2 linked regions of the Homo sapiens genome follow. The protein of the gene in region 2 interacts with the protein of the main gene of each other region in a pairwise test. Each region holds a gene or a part of one and is shown on either strand. Other genes may lie near its edges.

What was found. The genes of interacting proteins can lie anywhere in the genome.
Region 1: the proteins of C11orf87 (region 2) and SLC15A2 interact in binary tests that used the Homo sapiens proteins (3 or more experiments, as listed by UniProt).

Annotation. Positions count from the first base shown.
Region 1 is NC_000003.12:121,925,398-121,932,423, reverse strand, and holds part of SLC15A2 (solute carrier family 15 member 2), read right to left. Parts: intron 4,667-7,026; coding exon 4,585-4,666; intron 4,004-4,584; coding exon 3,869-4,003; intron 3,443-3,868; coding exon 3,278-3,442; intron 3,123-3,277; coding exon 3,076-3,122; intron 1,585-3,075; coding exon 1,474-1,584; intron 1,299-1,473; coding exon of another isoform or gene 1,253-1,298; exon of another isoform or gene 792-1,252; intron 786-791; coding exon 689-785; intron 1-688. UniProt on the Homo sapiens protein: Proton-coupled amino-acid transporter that transports oligopeptides of 2 to 4 amino acids with a preference for dipeptides. Transports neutral and anionic dipeptides with a proton to peptide stoichiometry of 2:1 or 3:1.
Region 2 is NC_000011.10:109,417,694-109,425,208, reverse strand, and holds the start of C11orf87 (uncharacterized protein C11orf87 precursor), read right to left. Parts: upstream 3,020-7,515; 5' UTR 2,946-3,019; intron 2,772-2,945; exon of another isoform or gene 2,642-2,771; intron 2,431-2,641; exon of another isoform or gene 2,342-2,430; coding exon of another isoform or gene 2,160-2,341; intron 1,835-2,159; coding exon of another isoform or gene 1,576-1,834; coding exon 982-1,575; 3' UTR 1-981.

The DNA.
Region 1 (7,026 bases), on a different chromosome or scaffold from region 2:
AGAAGATCTGCATATGAAGCTGGCCAAGAAGACATTAGTACTTTTTCATAAATAACTTGTGTTTGATTGGAGACATAAAAAGACTGGAGCAAGCTGTGGCATCTCACAGTGATGGCTCAAGATAAATTATGTTTCTCCTTCCCCAAGACCCTTTGCTTGTTGTTGATGTTATCTCTTAACAACCCCTACAGAGACAGTGGGCTTTCTAAAGTCACTGTAGAGCCAGGTGCGGTGACTCACGCTTGTAATCTCAACACTTTGGGAGGCTGAGGCTGGTGGATCATCTGAGGTCAGGAGTTTGAGACCAGCCTGGCCAACACGGCAAAACCCCATCTCTACTAAAAATACAAAAATTAGCTGGGCATGGTGGTGGTGGGTGCCTGTAATCCCAGATACTCGGGGAGGTTGAGGCAGGAGAATCACTTTAACCCGGGAGGCAGAGGTTGCAGTGAGTCGAGATGGTGCCACAGCACTCCAGCCTGCGCGATGAGAGCGAAACTCTGTCTCAAAAAAAATAAAAATAAAAATAATTAAAGTCACTGTAGAACCTGTCATCTTATGCTAGAAATAAATATACGTGTCTGCTTTGCCACAGAGTCTTCTCTTTTGTTTTCTGCCCCTGCCTAGAGGATCTCAGGAGATATATGTATATGGAGAGAGGGTAAAGAGGTGGCTGTGAGCTACTTACATTAGTAATAACAAACAGATATGCTGCACCAAAGTCTAGAAGACCCAAATTCAGAGAAAAGTTCTTATCTTCTGTTCTACAGTGCACTGCAGGGTATCTGGAACAGGATGAATTTAGGTTAGAATAAATATCAAGGCTTGGAAAAGCATTCCCATCTCCAGGTGAAAGTGATCTCATCTCTCTACTGATGGTGAGGAAAGCAGTGAAGCCACTAATTATCTTTGAAGAGAAATGTTTCTTGGAGTAGGTTATTTTCATGCCAGGCTTCTGTCCCTGATTTGAGCTCTTTATTGCTTGTCAGGTATTTTCTAAAATATTCAACCTAAATAAAGAAGTTACAAATCATATTCTTTTGTTAACTTAAGTACCATGTGAATTTTCCTCATGCAAATCTTATGACTTAGTAGAACAGGCTATAACAGTGAACCTGAGAAGATAAGCTCTAAGTAATGAAGTGCCAGTGTAAGGTACCAAAGTACCTTCTTTAGTAGAAATGGAAACCAATAATAAACTTTGAGAAACTCACAGAGACGGACTGTGTTAACTATACAGAGATGGGCTGTGTTAACTATATAGTGTGGTCTTCACGGCAATCGTGATCTCAACATATCTGTGCAGAAAAAAAGTGAGACTGAGGGAAGGAAGCAAGAGTTGGAAAAGATCAGTAGTGCGTCTATACTCAAAATTAGACCACATGCACCTAAGTTCCCCACCTATATACAAAGATAGCACTTAAAAAACAATTATTGACAAAAGTAAAATGTCCACAGGGGCAATGCACTTACTCTCCTCTTTGCACAGTTCTATAAGCAGACACACCATAGTCTTCACCAACATTGAGAGAGGTATCTGTACTCAGGGAGATGTTGACATCTTTATGCAAAGTGTTAACAAACCTGAGGGTAGAGATATTATTTACATATCAAACAAACAGGAACACCTGATAAAAGAGGTTAGGGGCCTTTTATGTTTTGGGTATAACTATATCCCCAGTGCCCAGGTGCCTAGGATAGTGGCTGGCACATAAAAGGTACCTAATGTATATTGTTAACTAGACGAATGAACCCACACGTAAAAAGTAATCCATAGTCTTAGCTGTCCCTAAGTTTCTTTTTCTTGAACTTTTATCTGCCACATCCTCACCAGACCTCTAGCTAGACGGACACTATCATGATCATTCATGGAAATCTGAGTTTCCTCACTAATCCAGCTTAGGTGCATCTAATTTATTTCCCTTATAATGGTGGAATCTATCAACTGAGACTTTACTAAGAAAAATAAGATAATTATGCATATATAAAGATATGATAGTATTTACATAAAACTGATATCTTATCCTCTTATAAATGAAGTCCAATGTGACCTATGCAAAACTCAGACTCCCAGCCCAGAGTAGGTTATTATAATTGTTTTGGAGTCTGCAGAAACTTTGGACCCTTCCAAGACCATCTTTCTATTTTTCTGAACCTGGCACCTAGATTGTCCTCTCAGGATGGGTTTTGGTACATTTCTGTTTTGATAGCTTTTGATTTGGTCTCTGGCCCCAGGAATAAGAAGGACATTTCCCTTTAGAGTCCTGAATGTTGATTCCTAGACTTTAGATCATTCTACACTGACCTAGAAAATGCCCCTTCTGGGGGCCCATGGCTCTCTGACCTCACATTGTCTTATTTTGAGCTGTTTACTTTTTTTGAAGCATATTCAAAAGCAAGTTATTATGACTGTCCCAACCTTCAGTGAAATCCAGACTTTTCACTAAAAGTTCTCCACTAAAATGCTATTCTCAACAGCAACCACTTGACCTTGGTGGCCATAGACCTGTGTATCTGTCCATTTCATATCTAATACCAGCCACAGAGAACACATGTCCTCTTGGGTACTCCATCTCTGTAACTGTCCCTCACCATTTGACAAGACCCTTCAGCCTTATCTGGATTCAAAACTAAGTCTTTTGACTCCAAATGTGTGCTATACCATGATGCCTCTACAGGCTTATAATAAAAACTATACTTTAAAAGATATATATTCAACTATCAAAAATGAAGGGAGGATTATTTTCTCACTTCCAAATTTCTCTCTGGCGATCACAGAGAGAAAAGTACTCAGTTATTTTCCTGAGAGCAAGATAAATAGATAAAATTCAGCAGAAAGGATTTATGCCCCAGAGTACAGGGGGCATACACAGATAGAGTCATCTTCGAATCCCACATGAGAAAAGAAGCCTATCTGCCTCTCACTGTCCTAGAAAATGCCTTTTGACACCAGTGCCCCTGGCATTCTACGAGAGGGAATTCCTGTTCAGAACAAGTAGAATGCAGCCCCAAAGATTAGAAGAGATCCAAGATTCAAGAAAACAGAGTGGCCTGGAATCTCATTGACATTCAAACCTCACGGTTGTCATCCCATTGGTTGTTCTGCTTTCTGTATCCTTTACCTACAACAGAGGAAAGTAAAAATCAGTAACAGCTGATGAAATAAGACCTATACTCAGAAAATTTGATCATCAGGCAGATCCTTGGTAAGATGTTGATGAGACAGTCATATTACTTTGAGATGACAACTGAAAACACAGGCAATTCCTCAAATTACCATCATGCTGGAGATACTGTTCCCATCTTCACGAATGACAAGACTGTACCAGTTCTTCTCCTGCACAGAATGCTCAGTGTAGAGAGACAAATTGTGATATTTCAGGTGGAAGTGAAAATCCTGGCTTTTTGTTTTCAGGTGCAGTTTGGAATAGTGTGGTGTTTTCTGTAAAATGAAGAATATAAAATGAAGGTCACGTACACCTTCTACTGCATATTGGACATCACGATGTAGCATCTCAGGGTAGGTGACCTCATCAGACACTTTCAACCTAGTAATTCCTTTCTTTAACCTAGCCATTTTATTTCTTGGAATTTACCCTAAGAAATAATCAGAGCCATGCATAAATATTTATGAATAAGAATGTTCATTGTAGGATTATGTATAATAATAAAAACGGAATACCTATGTGGAAATGTCTAAATAAACTATGGTATATCTATAGAATGGAATATTATATGCCCATTAAAATCATGTGCTCAAAGATTATCTAAAGACATGGGAAGATGCTTATGATACAATTAATGTTAAGGAAAAATCAAGATCAATATAGCATACAGAGTTTCTAATTCATTCAGGTACACACCTCACCTGAAAGGATTTGATGGACTCTATCAACAGAGAATTGTTTTCATTTCCCACCACTGTCACCTTCACCTCATCATCTGCCAGATTCAAGACTTGTAGGAAAACCTCCTGGGGACCTGGCTGGGCTGGGGCCATTTCCTTAGAGCAAAGAACACATGTCAGAATCACCAACAAATAATCCTTCAGATACAATGGCAACACATATCTCAGTTGTTTCTGACAGCCTAGTCCACTAGCCAAGTAGACATAGTTTTCTCCCTCTGAAAAATATTTGGCTTAGAAAACTCTAAAGGCAGCTTGGAGAGGGAAACATCAGCTCATTGTAGCAAGTACCAATGCCAGCTTACAAACTCGATGCTTTTTGACTCAGCTGTGGCCTCATCCGTAATAGTGGCTATTCAATCTGCCAAAAGGTTTTTACTTGAGTATGTAGAAAGGCATCACATAAGCCTGTGTTCCCTAAGGAGAGGGCTCTCTTGGATATTAGTGTTTGAGAATTCCCTGAAAATACATTCTGAGTCACTCAGGTGGGAGGTGGGCCTCATTTTGCATTGCTGTTTTACCCCTGTATCTACTTATTTATCACAAATACTTATGATGCACCTCTTATAAAACAGGTACTGTGCTAGGTCCCAGGGAATCATGACTGAACAAGTCAAAAGAGCAAATAAGAAAGATATGATCCTGCCCTCATAGAGCTTAAGAATTACTGAACTCACATTTATTTTTATCTCTACAGCTGCCGCAACTGCAAATGCCAGGCATGCTAGGATCATACCAACAGCCATTTTCCTAAGTGATCTGTGGTGGAAAGGAGAAACAATTATATCTAAACTTTAGACTCTAAAGGATGAAATCCAAACTCTGTAGCCTATTATTAAAGACTGCATTAGACTGTTCTTGCATTGCTGTAAAGAAATACCTGAGACTGGGTAATTTATAAAGAAAAGAAGTTTAATTGGCTTATGGTTCTGTAGCTTTACAGGAAGCACAGTGCTGGCATCTTCCAGCTTCTGGTGAAGCATCGAGGAGCTTTCAATCATGGGAGAAGCCAAAGGTGGAATAGGCATGTCACATGGTGAAAGCAGAAGCAAGCGAGGAGATGGGAGGTGCCACACACTTTTAAATGACCAGATCTTGTGAGAACTCATTCACTATCATGAAGATAGCACCACAGAATGGTGCTAAACCCTTCATGAGAATTCACTCCCATGATCCAGTCATGTCCCACCAGGCCCCACCTTTATCACTGGGAATTACATTTCAACATGAGATTTTGGCAGGGACAAATATTCAAACCATATCATTCCATCTCTAGCCCCCCAAAAATCTCATGTCCTTCTCACATTGCAAAATACAATTATATCTTCCCAATAGTTCCCCAAATTTTAACTCATTCCAGCACAAACTCAATCAAAAGTTCCAAGTCCAAAGTCTCATTTGAAATAAGGCAAGTCCCTTCCACCCATGAGCCTATAAAATCAAAACAACTTATTGACTCCCCAAATAAAATGGGGGTATAGATACTGGGTAAACATTCCCATTCCAAAAGGGAGAAACTGGCCAAAACAAATGGGCTACAGGCCCCAGGCAAGTCTGAAACACAGCAGGGCAGTTATTAAATCTTAAAGTTCCAGAATAATCTCCTTTGACTCCATGTCCCACATTCAGGGCACACCAATACAAGGGGTGGGCTCCCAAGGACTTGGATAGCTCCACCCTTGTGGCTTTGCAGAGTTCAGCCCCTGTGGCTGCTCTCACAGGTTGTTGAGTGCCCGTGGTTTTCCAGGCCCAGGGTGCAAGCTGCCAGTGGGTCTATCATTCTGGGGTCTGGAGGATGGTGGCCCCCTTCTCACAGCTGCACTAGGCAGTGTCCTTGTGGGGACTCTGTGTGGGAGCTCCAACCCCACATTTTACCTCCACACTGCCCTAGTAGAGGTACTCTCTGGGGGCTCCACCCCTGCAGCCGGTTTCTGCATGAACACCCACACTTTCTCATACAGCCTCTGAAATCTAGGTGAAGGGTGCCAAGCATTCTTCATTCTTGCACTCTGTATGCCTGCAGGCTTAACACCATGTAGAAGCCACCAAGGTTTATGGCTTGTACCCTCTGGAGAAACAGACATGTCACATGGTGAAAGCAGGAGCAAGTGAAGGGTAGGGAGATACTACATGCTTTTAAATGGTCAGATCCCACTAGAACTCACTATCATAAGGACAGCACCAACGGGATAGCACTAAACCATTTATGAGGAATTCATCCCCATGATCCGACTACCTCCCACCAGACCCCACCTCCAACATCCAACATTGGGGATTACATTTCAACATGAGATTTGAGTGGGTACAAATATTCAAACTGCATCAAAGACTTTTCCTGATTTGATCCCAATTACTTTCCTTTTTTAAATCCATGTTTCCATGACCAATTACTTTTCAAGGGATTTCCTAGAACTCCCCTTCATACATTCTTCTTTCTTCTTGTTCTTGAGTCACATTGAACTGCTCTTCTCTGTGATACACCACATTTACCCACCTCCATCTTTGCTTATGATGGTTTTTCTATTCGCTATGTCATAACACCAAAAATAATGGCAATACAATCAGGTTTATTGAACAAATGCCATATGCCAAGTGCTGTACATGCTTTACCTCACATTCCTCTGCAGAAATCTGTTGGCTTTGGCAGGGGAGGGACTTTTTCTTTTCTACCTCTCCTTGGCACTTGATCTTCCCTTCTTAGGACACTTATTTTACCTGTGTAGTAGTTGTATTTTATATATATATATATATATATATATATATATATATATATATATATATATATATATAGTCTAGCCCCTTTACTAAGTAATAAACTGTTTGAGGGAAATGTTGTTTTTTTTTTTGCTTGATTTATATTTTCATGACACTTGGTCCTAAACTTCCCAACATTTGCTCAATGAACAAATGACAAAGGGCCATTTTCATCTGGTAAAGTGGTCATCACAATGAAATTGCTATTAAATCAAGAATGAAAGAAGGCTTGAAACTTTCTTTTGCCAAACTCTAAAAAAGACTAGTCCTTCTATTTAGAAAAAATTTCAGGCAGTAATTGGGAATAATTCAGTCCCCAGTCCTACTAGGTTCCCCATTTGTTTTGTAGGGACAACAGGAGATTT
Region 2 (7,515 bases):
AAGAACCCAACCAAAAGCCAGAATAGTCACTTTCCAAAACAGCCCCTCCTCTGCCTTCACAACTAGAGGAAGTAATCAGAACGGTGAGGCGACTTCAGCACCAGACCTGGCTGGACAGCTCCCAGATCCTTTGTAAATCCTGAAAATGTCACAAGTCAAAGGTGTACGGGTGGGGGCGGGGCAGGGAATGAAAGCGTTAGCTTTTTAAAAAAAACTCATTTAAAGATTTTAACGTACTTATGCTCGGCCAGCGAGGGTCATTTTAAAAAGTAAATTAAATGCTCTGTCCTGGAAAATGTAATGGTTAACCAAAGGGTGAGAAATGGGCGGACTGGCGAGGGGTACCTGTCATAAACACTTTCCGGGGACTATTCTCTATGGCCTCTTGCAGTCCTGGTGCTTAATGTAGACATTTTCTTTATAATATACTATTGCCTGAGCCCGGCTGAGGGTGGGAATGGGGAGGAAAGGGAAGCTAAAGGAAAAGTGAAAGCTTAGGGGTCAGAGGGGAAGGAAGGAAACTAAATCTTAACTTGACAGCTATGTACATTACCGGGCCCCCTCCCCTCCCTTTGCTCCGGGAATCAATGCCTTTTATATATTTGGTAGCTTGTGCGGTTTCTCCTCCTAATTGAGGGGAGCGCGGGGTGGAATGGGAAGATGCATCCTCCATTGACAGTTAGAAATTATGTGATTTGTCATGCGCTTGGATTGTGTTATTAGTATTATAATAATTACTATAAATATTAATAAAGTATTATTATCAGCGTTATTTCTTCTTCCGAGACTTTCCTCGCCCAATATTTACAAATACCGCACAGTGCCTCGGCGGAGGAGAAACAAGAGTAAGGGGAGGGCAGGTAAGGAAACCAGGAAGAGGAAAGAGGGGCCAGAGGAAAATGGAAAAGGAAGGAAGAAGGAAAAAAGCAAGGGTGGCAAAGATGCTGGAAACGAGGACGGGGAACGAGAGGGGCTAGACGATCAGGACAGTACCACCGTTTGCAAAAGGCCCTCGCCAGCTGTGTCCAAACAGGAGGAAGCTGCGTGTGCTCCTTGGGGACTGGAGGCTGGCGGTGGAGGCGGAGGAGCACAGGGACCCTGGCACGGGAGGCCAGGGGACGAAGAGGACAACGACGAGGCGTTGGAAGGGGCGCAGAAGGGAGAGTCCCGGGGCTGCCTCTCCAGCCGGGTTTCCTTTGCGTGGGTTGGGGCCTGCCTGCCAGGTCGGGGCAGCCCCCCGCCACCGCGGCTGCCGCTGCAGTGATCCCGCTCATATTCCTCCTGAGCCCTCTGCATCTTCCGCTTCTTCATCCTACGCTTGTGGATGTGGAAAGTGGAGAGGGACAGCACGATGAGGCAGAAGATGAGGGTAACCAGGACAATCAGCACCAGCGTGGAGGAGAAGGACTGGAAGAGCTGCTGTCCCACCTGCGTGATGCAGGTGCCGCTGCCTACTGCGCCTGGGCCGCGGGCACCCGTGTTGCCGCTGCCGCTGGCGTTGGGGGAAGCAAAGGTCCGGTTGAGGAGACACGGCGGCAACGCCAGCCTCAGCTCCTTCGGCGCCCTGGCACTCATTGGCGCGGGGCTGGGAGGGGCCAGGCCCACTAGGCTTCCCCTCTTGGGCACACCGTTCCTACCAGCCAAGAAGAGGACGGAGCCCACGCCACCCAAAACTGCTCCCTGTAGCGGGAGGGGGTGTGCGAGCGAGCCAAGGACTAAGGGAGCAACTGCTGGCAAGCAAGGCGACCAAGGAGTGAGCGGCGCCCGAGAGATCCTCGCCGATACCACCTCGAACACGTCTCCACGCTCCCCTTTCCTTTGCAGAGGCACCAGGCTGCAAAGACACAAAGCTTAGTTAGAATCTCGGCCGCTGCCCAGGGGAGTGCTGTCGGGAAAGATCAACCACCACCGCAAAGCGGCCCTCTGGGCACACTGCCTGAGCTGGGCGCTGCCTGTATTTTCGGTCAGCGGACCCCAGCCTGCCGGCCCGTGGCCGTGCACCAGAGCCACCAGCAGCCTGCTCATGCCACTCGACAGGATGGGGTCTGCGCCGGCACCGCGGAGGTGCAGATTACTCAGCAGATAAGGCAGCCTCCCTTCCGCCCTTCACAACTTTATAATTGCAACAGACACGCAGCCGCTTTGGTTGAAGTCCCTACTTCCCAGAGCGCCGGCTCTCCTCTTTTCTGCGCCCTCTCGGTTGATGTCTTCGCCTGGATCCTACCCTTCCCAGCACCCACTCCGGGCCGCCGCGCGGGCTCCGGGTACGCAGTCCTCCCTTCCTTTCCCTCCCCGTCCAGACTCGCCCTCCCTGGACAGCGTCAGATCCCTTGGGTCCCATTCCCAGGGGGATACCCCTGGCACCACATCCCACTCTGCCTCTGTCCGCGACCGCGGCTGACGCGCAGGAACGCGCTCCATCTCTTCTCCAGCCTTCTTCCCTGGTATTCTCCCCTCTCCAAAAAAAAAAAAAAAAAAAAAAAAAAGCAGCTGAAGCATCTTTCTCAGCTGACACATTCCCACAAACGGCCCCCTCCTCCCCATTTCCCTGTGCCCCCAACTTGGCAGTAGCCTGCTTCTTTCTAGAGGAGCTGGAATGGAAAGGGGAGGGTTCCCGCCTGCAAAGTTTGGGGAACGGGACCTTCTTTCTGTCCTTCCCAGACCCAGCCCAAAGGCCCCGAGGCTTTTCCGGCATACTGGAGCCGGTAGACCCGCAGCGCACAGGAGAGCCTCCTTGCTGCTCCCAAGAGGCAGCTGCAAACTGTTGCACTGCGGAGTAGCGAGGTAGCGCGCAAGCAAGCCAGGGCAGGGGCCGGGGGCAGGGGCGGGGGCTGGAGCTATGGCCAGGGGTGGCTGCTCAGGCCGCGTGAGCTGTCCTCCCCACTCGCACCTGGCCGTCAGGCCACCCGGCCATCAGAAGCCTTTACTCACACCTTGTCTCTTACCTGGACCGCCGGCTGGCTGCAAGGAGGGAGCCCCCGCCGCGCGGCTGCAGTGGCGGCTGCAGAAAGCGTGGAGTGAATGGACCAGAGACCGAGCCGCGCTGCTGCCGCCGCCGCCGCCGCCGCCGCCGCCTTCGCCGCCGCTTCAGGGAGCTGAGCTCGCAGCCTATTGCCAGAGAGGCCGGTGACGTCAGGCAGCCACCGCCAGGGCTCCAAGCCACCCCTCAGGCCCCCACCCACCCTAGTACCCCAACACCTTGTCCTAGCATAGCGAGCCTCTGACACACACTTCCCAGTTCCCTGCCCTTCTCCAGCCCAGGAACTAGGAGGAGCAACCCCTACCTCCACCCTGCAAGCAACCCACCTTTCTCACTCTCTTGCCTAGGAAGAGTTGAATCTTCAGTTCTCCAGCTGTCTGATTTCGTTCTAGAGCTGACCCTTTGGTCCCAGAATCACATTTTTACACTCTGGATAGCCATCTACCATCGGTGCACACATCACCGGTGGTGATGAAAATTTCCCCCACCGCTAATTCCTCTCTGTGCTGCCCGTTTCTGAACATAAACTGCGTGCATTAGAGAGATGGCAGGGACGTTTCTCAACATAAGTGTGACAGAACCCAAAACACAAACCTGAACAAATTAAACAATCCAAATTAGCCATTTTTCTCCACTGGAGTTTCCAAGTTATCTTTCGCTCCATCTGATTCAAGATCCTCCTTCTTGCATCCCTCACATCTTCATCTCCAGGCCCCAGACCCACTCAATGTATTAAACACTCCTTCTATTCTGACAATCTAGACACTCATGAGCACACAAACCCTAGTCTTACAAGGAAGAAATATGAAATTATTCACAGGAAGGCAGAAATGAACTGCCTTATGAAAATTCCAAGTATTTGTAGCTTGCACAAAGTACCCCTTCATTGACCCTAATTCTTGGTAAAGTGTTTGGAGCACAACTTTTAGCAAAATACATAGAACTTCCAGAAAAGAATTCAACAGCCTCCCTAAATCTTGGAAGAGACTAGTTAACTATTGGTTTAGGAGCCTTGGAAAAATATGAATAGTGCATTTGGTTACAGAATCCAGCTTTGAAATGGAGTATGCTCATTTTTCTGTTGGAGAAGCTAGCTGGGAACAGTACCTAAAGACATTGCATGGTCTTTGAAGGCACTCAGGTGTCTTACTAAACGTGCGTTTTCTTCTTTGCTCCCTGTCTTCTTTTCTATCTTTGAGTCTAGCACAGTGCCTGTAGTTTACTTGATAAATTGAATGATACAGTGTATGTTGTTGCTCTTTCCTGCAATGCATCAGAAATGACTGATGCCCAGTTATCTGCTTGTATTTGCTGTATTTGTAAAGAAAGAGGGTCTGATATGTGGAGGAAAGGCTGTCTGTAATCTGGGGGTCCCTTCTTCGGACTCTGTGTTTAGGGTCATACAGTTACTGATGTCTGCCCCCCGCCCCCACCCCAATGCTAGCCTCACCTTCCTGACTGGAATGAGAGCACCAGATGCCTGCAATAGCCACCTGCCACATTTGGACAATTTGACTTTGGTGGGCTTAGGGGATGGAATGGTGAGCCTTTTTATTTATTTATTTATTTTTTACGCTGTGACTAAGTGACACTTTACCATTGATGCCTGACAGGCAATGTCCCATTTTTTCACACTCGCTTTGCTCCTGAAAAGTTGAGTCTAATAAACATTTTGTAAAGCAAATCCAATTTTGGATTCTCCAAAAAGAGATCTGGCTATTTCAAGAGACTCTTTAGCAAAAAATAAAAAATTTTTTAAAAAATGTTATTTTGTAAAGCAAAGAATTTTTATGCAATTAGAATTAACTCTTGGCCAGGCACGGTGGCTCATGCCTGTAATGTCAGCACTTTGGGAGGCTGAGGCAGGTGGATCACCTGAGGTCAGGAGTTAGAGGTCAGCCTGGCCAACATGGTGAAACCCTGTCTCTACTAAAAATAACAAAATAAATAAATAAATAAATAAATAAATAAATAAATAAATAAATAAAAGCCGGGCATGGTGACAGGCACCTGTAATTCCAGCTACTCGGGAGGCTGAGACAGGAGAATGGCTTGAATCTGGGGGACAGAGGTTGCAGTGTGCCAAGATTGTGCCATTGCACTCCAGCCTGGGCAACAAGAGTGAAGCTCCATCTCAAAAAAAAAAAAAAATTAACTCTCAGTCGTCTGTTTTCTAGATTTGAAGGAATTAGTTATTGGGCTTTCCCTATGGGGAATATACCTTTACAACATGTTGTAATGGGATTACAATATGTATGTAATGGGATTCTTCTTGCACACCAAGCTTCTAGGACATGTCAGAAGGCTTCCAATGTTATTCTTTTGTTACAAATGATAGCCATCTGTTATACCAGGAGTGCTAAAGCTGTGTGCATTATTTTATACACCCTATGAAAAGACAAGATCTTAATCTGGAGAACTTATACTCTACAGCAGATAAATGTGATTCACCAGAAAATGGTATTTAACTAGCAATGATTTAGGTAGATTAAAGACATTAGTTTTCAGATCAAAAGCATAGTACCCTTTTTTGTCTTTTCTCTTTCAAGAATAGGCAGTAGGTTCATAATTTATTCTTACCCAGAGGACAAATGTACTAAATACGTAGATTTGGATGTCATTGGGTAGTGTGTTTTAAACCCAAGGAAGAGCAATGACAGCAAATATGGGCACCTCTTGGACTGCAGGAATTGATCCCACTGAGTTGCCACATGATTTTTGGCACATCTGGCTGAATGGCAAGGCTTCTTCCAGACAACACCATTGTTGCCACTATTTTCGCCACCAAACTTCACAAGCCACACTCCCAAGAGTAGAGAACCAAGAAGCTCCTGAGATTCCTATAATCTTCCCTTGTAATGGGAAAGCCCCTCTGGACATAAGCATGTTCCAAATATTTAAGAGCATTTAATATTTGCTTTCAAGTTTAATGAAGAATCTCGATCTAACTTAGATAAAAGTGCCACATGGGCACCTGTACCTAAATCTAAGCAGCATTGAATCAATAATAATAATAGCTATTATCCTTATTTGCAAAACACCTACTATGTACCAGGCTATAGTAAACCCTATATTAGCATTAATCCTCTCTACAACCTCGTAAGGTTATTTTTGCCAAAATACAAAATTATTCATTTACTCATTTGTTCAACAAAAATCTGAGTACCTGCTATAAGAAATGTGAAAAAACTAAAGCTCAGAGTGTTTAAAGACAATGTCTAAGTAACCCACTGAGAAGTATATTACCACATATATTATTGGGCTGAAACACAGGTAAACTGATTCCAAAGTCAGAATTCTTTTTATGACTACTTTTCATGACTAATGGCTTTTCTCTCTTTCCCTTTCTGTTTCTCTCTTTCAAACACACTTACTTATTTTTATTTTTATTTTACCTCTGTCTACTTCTGATTGGGGTAATTATGTAAAGCTAGAGAAAAGCAGAGATGCTTGGTTGAAGTGTAGGAGGGAAGATGGGAAATCCCCATGGTTCAGGTCCTTCCTTCCAACCAGGAGCAGTCTACAGGATCTCCACAGATTCCCTTGGACTGAACAAAGTCTAGTTTGACTAAGGCAGGTCATTCTAAATCACAGTGCAGCATGATATATGCCAGGCTCCTCTTAGATTTACAGGGACTTTTCCAGAGAATGTTTAGCTGATTTTGACATTTTGCCTAATCTTATATCTCCTCCAGTCTGGGCCCCTGCATACCTACAGAGGTATGCTTATATGTTGTCATGTTACTATTAACTACTGCCCCACCCAGTAAATAAATAATAAAGGTCGAGTGAAGTTCTTGACTTTGTTCTAGTTATCTAGTTTTATTCTAGTTCAGTCTTCTCATCTGCAAAATGGGAATAATAGAATCATTTTTTGCAGTGCTATTTTAAGCACTGAGCATATAGCAAGCATTCAATAAATAGTAGCCCATTACATTATAAAGAAAATTACTAAGATTGACATTTTATCCCTGGCAATAGAAGCATTATATTGTTTTGGACATCAAAATTCAGAAAAAAATTTGATAAGTATTAGTGTCCTTTACAGGAAGATGACTAGAAAGATGAAGGGACTGAAAACAATGATAGATAAGCAATTCAAGGAGAAGGGAATACTAATCTTAGAGATGGAAAGATGTGGGGAATGTAGCATAGCCTCTTAAAATATTCGGAGTATCGTCAATAGAAAATAGATTTATCCTAACCTACATACTCAAGAGAGAACAGAAATGTAGTGAAACAGATGTAGGATGGGGAGCCTCTTTCAATTCATTATTTCAGTAGCGGAAAGATCTTTCTAACCATGTAGCTGGTTATCATATACCTCAGCAGTCTTCAAACTGGAGGAGTCAATCCCTGAGAATACATTAGACATTTTCCAGGGGAATATATGTATAGTTTTAAGGGAATTATTTTCCAAGTCCTCTACCTCTATATGTACTTCTCCCCAAAATGTATCTATCTGGATTAAAATTTATCTTTTGTCACCTCTCCTTGCAATTGTCCTATTTCACAAAAGAAAAACGTATGTTTCA